Linked DNA regions of Homo sapiens: region 1 is linked to region 2. Evidence: fine-mapped expression QTL. A gene starts in region 2. The other region holds a variant in brackets. All regions are shown on one strand. Distances are from middle to middle. Region 1 overlaps LOC105374277 (a long non-coding RNA gene). Region 2 holds the start of FGF12 (fibroblast growth factor 12).

Region 1 (5,392 bases), 720 kb before region 2:
AGTCCACAGCTTGAGAGATTATGATAATTGAAAGAGCCAGAAGAAGAGTGAGAAAACAGACTATGACTTCTTTCCCACTGCAGATCCCTGAGCCATGAGCGAGGCATCCATTTAAAAGAGGAGTGAGGCATGGAAATGAACAAGAGGCTGGCATTTTGTGGTTGGACTCGACTATATCTTTAATACATTAAAATAAGTCATAGTTATAAAAATAAGACTTCTATAACTGAATATTACCAAAAAGAAACTTCCACTTTTAGCCATGATGATGAAACAGGGACTGGATTTACACTTACAATGGAAACTATGAACAAAACCAGGTAAAATATATGAAACAACAGATTTTAGATGTTGGATATCAGGCAGCCCAAGACAGTGATTCCTGATTGAGGAGGGAAAAAATAAAGTAATTTGTGTGATAGCCCCCAGCTTACAATCTATAGAGAGTATACAGGTCATTGTGCAGGAAGAAGAACCTGAAAAAAGCCCAGCCATCATGCTAAATTAAGACAGACTGTAGGGTACAGCGATGTCATCGTGTGTAACTTTTTCTAGAGGGAGTACTGGAGGAGAAAGAGCTAAGCAAAGAGAGAGTTCTAGATCCCTATGGAGAGGCAGGGAAAGGAATCTAAAAAAGCCCAGTGGTGTCCCTAATTTAAGAGACCTGAGGGTCCAGGGATGTCAAGTTGTTCAGCTTTCTCTAGACAGAATACTGGAGAAGACAGAGCTGAGCAAACAGAGAGTTCTAGATAGCTAGCTGTAGAGAGGTCCCTCAAGTCTTCAGCTGAGTACTGGTAACCCAAGTGTGTGAGGAAAAGCAAATCTTCATGAGCAGGTGAATGGATAAATAAAGTGTTGTACACTTAATGAAATACTGCTGGTCTATAAAAAAGGGATGAACTATTGATACATGCAACTGCATGGATGGATCTCAAAATAATTATACTAAGTGAACGAAGACAAACAGAAAGAGCACATCGTGTTTTATTCCACTTACACACAATTATGGAATATGAATACCAATTTACAGTCACAGAAAGCAGATCAGGGCTGGTGAGATTAGGGTAGGGTAAGGGGGTGAGAAAAGGAGGATGACACAGAGGATGAGGAAACTTTAAGGAGTGATGCATATGTGCATTGTCTTGGTTGTGATGATGGATTCATGGGCATGTACATATGTCAAAATGTATTAAATTCCACAATTTAAATTTGTATATAGTTTTGAATTGAGTTATAACTCAATAAAGCAGTTTTAAAATGGAGGGTGACAGATCTTACTAGAATGTTTTCAAAGAAGAGAGAAAGGAAAGTAGACATCATTCAGTTAAACGTAGTCATTGGGGAAATTAGAGCCATATTTTGGTGATAGCTTCTTTGATTTCAATTTATTCTATCAATTATTCATAGCTACAAGTGGCTTAACAACGTGCTTAAAATATAATTCTGAGTTAGTAACATAATTTACAGAGTTCCCCATTATGTGGGCACACCTGTATCTCTAGTCCTTTCACACACACTACACTGCATCCCTACCATATTTTCATTCAGTGCTATTTACACTCCTGAACTTGATATACTATTTTTCACCTTCGGTTCTTCAATCATTATGTTCTCTGCCAAAATACACTTCTCCCACCAGCTGCATCCCTATGCCTCATTCTCCCAAGAGGTCTTTCCTGACAGCCTACTCTAGGTTGAGTACCCATGACAAGTGTTCTCAAAGCATGCTACTCTATTGCACCTCATAACACTCATCAAGTTTATATTACTTGTTTTTATAAGACCGTAAACTCTCTGATACATTTATTGCTATATCCCCAAGAATATAGCCCAAAAACTAGTTTATGAATGACACTCAAAAAATATTTGTTGAATGACTGAATATGAAAGAACCCAAACTTATGGGTTTTATTTTTTTATCTTGCCTCTACTCATTTACAGCAGTAAATCTGCAAGCTTCAGAAGTTAAGAACTTTGTCCATTGTATTCACCAATGTTTCATTGCACATGGTATCTGTTTAATAAAATTTATTTTGTGAAAGGCACTCTCTTAGGCTTTAAGAAATTCACTTACTTGTTTGTTTTAAATTTCAACCTCTAAGGTATAAATCTATAACCATAACATTGCTTATTGTTCTTTTGCCTAATCTCTAAAAAAAGTTTAATAATTGAATAGAATTCAATTAAGCGTTCTCCTAAAACTAAATCTGAGCATGTTTACAAATGTCCATGACCTTCCTCTGATCCATCTTTTCCAAATGTATATATTACATGAAGTCCTTAACACTCCTAGGCTCACAACTATGAGTCATCTTTGGTTTCTTTGTCTCCTTCATCCCTTGTACCACACTGAACACAAAGTTCTGCCAAGTCTTCCTCTAATACATTATGCAACAAGTCTATTGTCTGTTGCTGACCTACAAAATACTGCAAGAGGCACTGATACAAAAATGGCCTCTAATCCCTGAAGGCTTACCACCTCTTAAGGAGAATGTTGTCAACAAATGACAAAATATGCTATAAAATAAAGAGATTTCCATACAAACATGCATGTACCGTGTGCTCACACAGAATAAACTTTTCTGTTGTAGAAGGTCAAAGGAGAATATGCCTATTTTCAATGATACAAAAATATGTTGTGGAGAAAGACACTAGCAAATGTAGGTAGAGATGAAGATGTAATAAGATGTAAAATAATTGTGAAATCGTGTGTGCCCACAAGTTGGGCAGTGTAGACTGAAGTTACTGAGCAATAGGTAGATAAGATAGTGATGCATTTCAATCAATAATATGTAAGATTAATCCAAAAATCCATCAATGTTTGAAATACACATAGGAGAGAAAATAAAGTCAGAGATTAAATTCTGCTCAGAAAGGTTCATGTAATATGTAAGTAAACTAAGGTGCTTATAATAAGAATAAATATAAAATAAATATAAGAGATATTACAGAAGTTCATCCTGTCATGTTAGAAACTATC[T/A]GGATTTGGAAAGAAAACCAATGATTTGGTGATTTACAAAGCACTTGTGTCATACCTCATTTTGATTCTCACGAAAGCTTTATTAGATGCAATGACATAGATTCATTGGATTAGAGAGTACACTGAGCCTAAGAGAAGGAAATAGTTTACTTAGGGTCATAGTAGATAATCTAGTGGCAAAGTAGGAACTCTGACCCATATGTGATTTTTAATGTAGCTCCCTTTTTTAAAAAAGCATCAAAAAATGATTCTTGGAATTTTTTAGTTTTAAGCTTTTCCATTTCCAAAACCCAAGAAGTAAAGAAGGAGTTTTGGCTGAGTGGCTCGTCATAAATAAATGTATTATCTTCAATTTTCCTCTTATTTAATTCATGTAAGAACATATGAATAGTGCCTGTTGTTATGATATTTCTCAACTTCAAACCCACCCTTCTATACTCTATTTTGAAATGCTGAGGCTGGGACTGCAAACTTGTGCTTTGGCAGCCTTTCCATTAGAGCTGGTCAACAAAAATTGCTACAAAGAGGCTGCATACTTGGAAGAAGACAGGACTTGCTTTTGTGTTTTCCTGAGGGCTCTTTGTGACCTTGTGGTTCTCATGATCAGGACCTCAAGAAAGCTTTGTCCTCATAATAGTTAGCAGTTGTTCCTGTAGCAGCAGCATCCCTTCCTCAGAGGTATGAGTCCCAGAACCCATGAGGCCAGACCTCTGAGCTCAGAGACAACAGCAGCACAGAAGCGGAACTCCCTCCTGAGCAGTGTGACTTAAAGATCTACAGCACCCTTCCTCCCTTGCTCCTTTTGTTTTCTCAGCTATAAGGATGGCAGCAGCTTCTACAGTTTCCACCTCTCCTACACCTTAGAATTATTCTTTATTTGTTGGCAACTTTATACCTACTTAAAATTATTTATATGAAATCTCCTTTGTCAAATTACTACTGTGTTTTCTGTCTCCTGTTTGGACCCTGACTAATACATCAAGTTTTCTAGGACTCCCATAGTAATCAAATTCTACAGAGGACTTCTATTGCCTCATGCTAACATCTCCAAATAATAAATATGTACCAACCCATTTAACCCATCCCTAACAATTTTTGCTCTTGCTTTACATATAATTCTTCTTATCCTCTAAGGAAATATATCCCCTGGTTTCTAAATACATTGTCCCAGAATGCCTTCATTATGCTTCCTTGCTTAAACTATTTTCTTTTCCTTTCTTTCTTCCTTCTCTTTCTTTTTCTTTCTTTCGTTCCTTCCTTTCTTTCTTTCTTTTTTCTTTCTTTTTCTTTCTGTCTTATCTCTTTCTTTCTTTTTCTGTCTTATCTCTCTTTCTTTCTTTCTTTCCTTTCTTTCTCTTTTTCTCTTCCTTTCTCCCTTTCTTTCTCCCTTTCTCTCTTTCTTTCTTTCTCTTTCTTACTACATCTTTCTTTCTCCCTACCTTTATCTATCTATAGTTTACCACTTAGAGCACCTCTAGATTAGATTCATAATTTCTGCCCATTCTAATTATTGCTATTGATATAAATCATATATAAATAAAAATATATATGTTGTATAAATGTTAATGATTTATATAACAAAACAATACAATATAGGTAATAGTATTCTACTTTTAAAAGAGTAGCAATAATTTCATCACAATGTTATCTAAAAGAGTCTCAAATTGAAAACAACCTAAATGTCTAACATTAGGAAAGCATTGAAGTAATATTGTATATATGTTTAAGTGAAATATTATACATATAATAAAAATATTACCTACAAAGAATTTAAGTGACGTTGAAAATTGATTATGACTTATGTGAACAAATAAAGATATAATATATAACCATGACATGATCTTAACTATGTAAAAATATATAAAATAAAAACTACACAAAAAAGGAAAAAGTTGTTAAATAAAGAAGGAATCTGAGGATTAGTGAAATTGTGTCTCTTATGATTTTCCTCATAGGTCATTATATTTTTTTCACTTTCTCCCACTAGCTTCCACAGTCCTCAGAAAGGGAAATGTTGGTCTATAATACACAAGATGTATTCAAAGTATCTCACGTGGTCCTCTGGATGAGGTCGTGCCAAACACATGTTTTCAGAGTCATTACTCTAATCATGATTTGCCTACTTTGCATGTAATTTTCCAGGTGAACTTCTCATCTATATAGGGTACTAAAGAACAAAAAATTTGGAACCAGGAGGCCTAGACTTTAGTTCTGAGTGTCACACTTTCTAATAAGGTATCTTTAGGCAGATCAATTCTCTGATCCTTATTTTCTCATCTGTAAAGATAAATTTTTCAAGACCTCACAAGATTGTTGGGAAAATTAATGAGAGATTACTGTTGTTGGTAAATATTATATAAACTGGAAAACTTATACAAAATAAAGTATTTTTTCATCATATTTATTATTATT
Region 2 (5,316 bases):
AGGTGATTCTAGTGTGCAGCAAACTTTGTGAACCACTCCTCTAAATACTAAACATTTTAACTCATTTAAGAATCTCAAGCCCTTAAGATACGCAAGGCACAAATTCCGTCAGAGCTGCTCGGACTGCGTACCAACCCAAATCTTTGAGACAATGTTAAGTACATGGTGCACAAAAATCGCTGAAATTAGATCATGAATTGAACCTCAGGTCAACTGATGTATTTTCCTCTCTTCTTTACCCTGTATGACAGGGAGTGATGCAAAGTTGTAAATAAGGAAGCAAAAATAAATTGATCTTATTTGTAAATAGCTGAAGTTCAACTTTCTGGATGCTGGACAAATGCTCTAAGAAAGGCTGTCAAATGCTAGAGGTAATGTGAAAGTTGTCAAGTGTTGGCGATGGGATTCAAGATTAAACAGGCCATTAGATCTGGGTATGGGATAGAGAACTCTTGAACCCTCAACTGAGTCACGCAATATGACTCTATCTTTAAAGAGTTTCTACTAGAAAAGTATTATATATACATACATTTGAGAATGTCTTCCTAGAATTAGATTTGAATCTGTTGGGGGAAGAAGTTTGTACACGGCAGCATAAAATGTGAAAGATGCACCAATTACAGTATTGCACAAATACACATTTCTCTTAATACACTCTTTTTGGCTGGAATAAAAATTTCAAGTTAGCTACCATCGTTAGCTGTGCCATTTGCACCAACTTAGAAAGTGAGGCCAATGTATAAGTAATTAGCCATTTTTAATCTGATTGCCAAGCAGCTAACACAGCTTCATTAAGAAAGTCCAGGAACTAACATGCATAAAGACTTTCATCATGTTTTTTTTTTTTTTCAGAGGCAATTATGGGACCTCTGCAAAATGACCACAATGTTGGCCTACAGCAAAAGTCTTCGTTGCCTTTGGATCAGTGCTGTGATTCACTATATCATTGCTGTCTGGATTGACATAGAACTTCTGAACTGATTCTTTTCGGATGTATTTCTGAGATTCTTTCTCCTTTCTGAATTCAAAAGACTGAAAGAACAGCTAGAACTCTACTGTTAGCAATATGATCATTAAACCACCTGGAATGCTAAGTGACACGTAGCATGTTTTATGGGCAACGAAGGAAAATAAAAGATTACTGCCGAGAGATATAGCCTCTTTTTATGATTGAACAGGAATTAGTATACACATTGGAGGCAAAACTGTTACCAAGAACCTTTGTCAAATAACTAAATTTAGTGACCAAATACCAGGTGTCATCTAAGCAAGAAAAACTGTTTCATAGTAAAATGATATTCTTTTTCTGTTGTTAACCTTATGTCCCAGAAATACTTAGTCAGCTAGAATATTACAAACCTTTATATGTTAAGGACTGCCTTTTTATTTTAAAATGGAGTATAATAGAGTTAATAATATATGCCTCAAATATACTTATAGACATGGATTCTCTCATATGTGTACATCATTGTCAGACGTGGAGATGCCCATCAATGTATCATAAGAATAATCTGCCTGAACTGAAAATTGCCTGCTAGTCTTAATCCATGTTGATTCAGCTCTTTTTATACTATAAATGCTTGCCTAGGTTCAAATACTTTAAATCTACCAATTAAATACTTAAAACACTTTATTGAACATAGAACTGCTATCATTCAACACTCCAGTTTCATTAATCAGCCCAGAAATAGGTAACTCACCACCATTCCCTGATCCTAAGTACATTACCACAGTGACTGACATTCCTGGTTTAAAAATAAAATCTTGTTTCAAATATAGCTTCCCGAGTTCTGGGTAATGAATATAGTTTCATAAAAGTTGACATCATTTCTTCTGATTTCGCCAGAATTAAATACATCCAGTATGCCTCCTGGATATCTGACCACCATATCACTCAAGGCTCTCACAACCTGGTGGGCGTTTTAAGGAGAAGGAGAAACAGACCTGCATAGATGGGGTTAAATCCAAAAGATATCTAATCTTGTGGTTAGAATAGTCGTTGTGTTTATGTGTGTTCAATATGCCATTCAGAAGTTGATTTTTACAGTTCATTTATCAGTTGGCATGCATACATTATGCAGATTTGCTTATGAGGAGAACATTAATATGTACATGTCCAGAACTAGTAAATGCATTATGCTTGGAAGCCAAGCAGTACTCCCATACACTGTTCTTCTTAGAGGTCAGTTCTAACGCATGCTGTTCCAAATAGACCCAATTTCTCTGCTGATATATATTCAAAATGCAGTAGGATGTGGTCATACACACCCAGAAATACCATCTTCATGAGGTGGGGGTGGTGAAATTCAAACATTTTTTTTTTAGCAATGCATTATTGGATATCAGGTACAAACGTGCCTGTCAGCAATTCTAAAGCAAATGAAATAGATTTATTTGAGTCCATCCATTATACAGAAAAGATATTGCTTTACTAACACATACCTCCTCCTCCTCCTCCATTTTGGGGGGACTCTCCCCACCTCCCCCCAAAAAACTCATCACAGTTCACTACGCAACTGATGGAGTATTAAACACTGTCTTCCAAGCTGTGGGAGTTAAAAAGAAGTCGCCTTCCTGCCACACTTCCCCAGTGCTGCAATGGACATAGCATCTCCTCCTCTATCGACCTAGTATGATGCTCGCTCCCCAAGCACTGCAGTCCCCTCGCCGAGGATTGCCTTGGCCACACGCACATGCAGCGGGAAGTCCCCCGATAGGGACAACCACATACCTTTGCTCTCCATTTCGGTCCCTTTCGAGTGCTGGGAAGTTCAATGGAAGTTGGCCGGAAGATGTGGGCCCGCTTCAGATTCCCAAATCTGGGAAGCCAATCTGATGATTTCGCCCGTACTTCCTTCCTTCCCCTCAGGCTTCCTGAAAGATGGGATTTCTTAAACCTTGAAGCTGCAATCAGCCACCAAAGGACACTTAGGAGCAGCAGCAGATTGCCTCTACAGGGGATACGTTGCGACGCGCATCTGATACTGAAATGCATGCACAGTGCCCGCTCAGATTTTTTTTTTTTTTTTTTTACCTGGGTCTGGAAGCTGCAGGCAGGAGCTGTCCTCCGAGCGTGGTGCTGCAGGTGTAGTGACAGATCATCCCACTTTGCTCTCTGGATGCACAGCAGATTTGCATGGGCGCTGGCACGCATGCGCAGGGCGTCCCCCCTCCCCTTTTCACCGCCTCCCGCTCCCCCGCCCCCTTCGCCTCCCTCCCCAATACGGTCCTCAGTTATCCCAGCTGAGGAGCTGTAGCATTCGGTCACAGGGAAGCGCTGCTAAAAATAAACGCCGGACCGGATTTTCCTCTGCAAACTAGAAAATGGATTGGACTAGTACTGCGTGCATCAGGACGAATTACTGAAGTCTTAGAGGAGGCTAGTGTCTCCAGGCAGGGTATGGTTTTATTCAGAAGGCAGGGAGGAGAGATTTACGAATCGTTTTTAATGTTCACAATTTGGGTTTCTCTTTCTACTTGCTGCAGTAACTTTCCAGCTGTCTGCTTCCCTCTCCTCTCCCCACTGACTTCACATTGCTTGTTATATTCCTGTATGTGTTTTGTTTTGTTTTTCGAGAGTGGGGTGAGAGTAGTTATGGAGCTGTCAAAGGTTAATATTCTCTCGCTTCTTTGTTACTCAAACTCAGTGTTTTCCTGCCTGCCTCCACCTCAAAACTGTTCCATGAGCAGGCTCCAAGGCTTCTAAAGTTCTTCAAAAAAGCCACTGAGGATATTTTGAGGTGCTCTTTTTAGCTTTTTTCCAACAACCTGCAAGAAGTCCCCAAAGGTGGGGAGGCGTCTTATTGATAATAAGTACTTCCAAAAGCAATACCTAATCATTTTTGTGAAGTTGCAGGGATAGAGTATTTTTCTTGTACAGAGCTCTAGAGGAAGATGCAAAACCACAAATCTCTTGAAGTGCTACTTTCATATCAAAATATTTCTAAAGCCCACACTGTATTTCGTTTATATGCAAAATGTTTAACAGGAAAAATTGTGTTGTATTTACTACCTTTTTTTTTCAATAGTCCAGATTTTCCTGAGGTGATCATCTCTCCTTGAGAATAATAATCTTATTCTCCAGAAGTCCAGAAAACTCTGTTATCTGAAATGGTTAAGGAAGGAGATGTGCAGATTAGTCACATACTCTACTTCATGAAAGATCCTTCCACAGTAGGCTTCTAGTCCCAATTTTCAAAACATTGAAATATAATAAAATGTACTCCCAACAAGAAACCTGGAGTTGTATCTAATTTAATCTTTTTCTGGTGATTCAGAGGGCATCCTTTGATTTTTCCAATGCCTGAGGGCCATGATTACAAATATTAACCACGGATGGTTCAGCCAGACATGGACATTATTAGTGGAGGACTCCCACTAATGAACTGCTGTGGGTCAGCAACGCCTGGATCCATTCAGCATTTAGGAGTATCGGATTGCAGAGGCCACAACCTAGGGCCTACTAATTTTTAGGTTCTCCAACTGTATGCCAAAGTACGTGTTTGGAAGAATCATAAAATTCAGGATTTCTTTTCAATGTTGAATAGGCTTAGGAAGTAAGCTTAGGGTGGGAGTAGTGTTGCTCCTTAAGAACAATAGTCTATTTCATTGAGATAAATAATTTCTGCTCTTAATACTGCACCCCGTTACATGTTCTTTCCTTCTCAAAGGTTTTAGAATAGGAGATATCTTTAGAATGCATCTCTATGTACTCTTCATATTTATTCTTTTACAGACGGAGAAACTAAAGGCAGGGGAGGAGTGGCACTTGAAAAGAGTCACATGGTGAACCAGATCTGGGCTCAGAACCTAAGTGTCATACCTCAAAGGCAGAGGCAAGCCATCTATAGTCCAGAATGATTTTTCATATAACTGCCTTCCCATTATCTACAGTGAATAAGAACAGGGAGAACCTTCTAGTTCATAAATTATCATTATTTTTATTCATAATTTTAAGAACCCAGCTGCTTTATTAAATAGAAAGCAAATCAAATTTAATGCAAAATTTGTGTTCTGACATTCAAGATCTTTCCATTCTTCTCCAAGCTTAACTCCTAGACAACAATTGCTATTATCCTAAACAAACCTCAAGATTGTTTTTAAACCAGGGGAAAGTGGGATCACAGACCCCCACTACCACAAATTATGCAGTCTAGTTTCCCACGTATGGGGAAATTGCAGGGGTCAGCACATCTGGAATGCAATTGATAAGCCTTGACTGGGAAAACAACCTTCTTGCTCATGATAGCTCCTCTGTCAAGATTTTTCTTACCTTTGCTTACATAGTCATTGCTGGAATATCTTGACCTCATCAAA

Evidence for each region. PIP is the estimated chance that this variant, and not a neighbour inherited with it, causes the effect. A credible set is the group of variants that fine-mapping cannot tell apart.
Region 1: its variant is the best candidate, but not a certain one, in a credible set for the expression of FGF12 in thyroid (GTEx, PIP 0.50).

The regions. Positions count from the first base shown.
Region 1 is chr3:192,009,007-192,014,398 of GRCh38, forward strand. All of the region lies in intron 2 of LOC105374277 (a long non-coding RNA gene), which reads right to left. Among named protein-coding and RNA genes, the nearest start is that of FGF12-AS1, 230 kb to the right of the region's middle. The variant T/A (reference allele first, on the strand shown) is at 2,981.
Region 2 is chr3:192,724,450-192,729,765 of GRCh38, forward strand. FGF12 (fibroblast growth factor 12) reads right to left here and starts at 3,092. Exons shown (of 6, transcript NM_004113.6): 1 at 3,035-3,092; 2 at 2,732-2,874. The coding sequence starts at 2,744. LOC107986056 (a long non-coding RNA gene) reads right to left here. Exons shown (of 3, transcript XR_001740579.2): 3 at 3,274-4,105. It also overlaps the pseudogene RNU1-20P.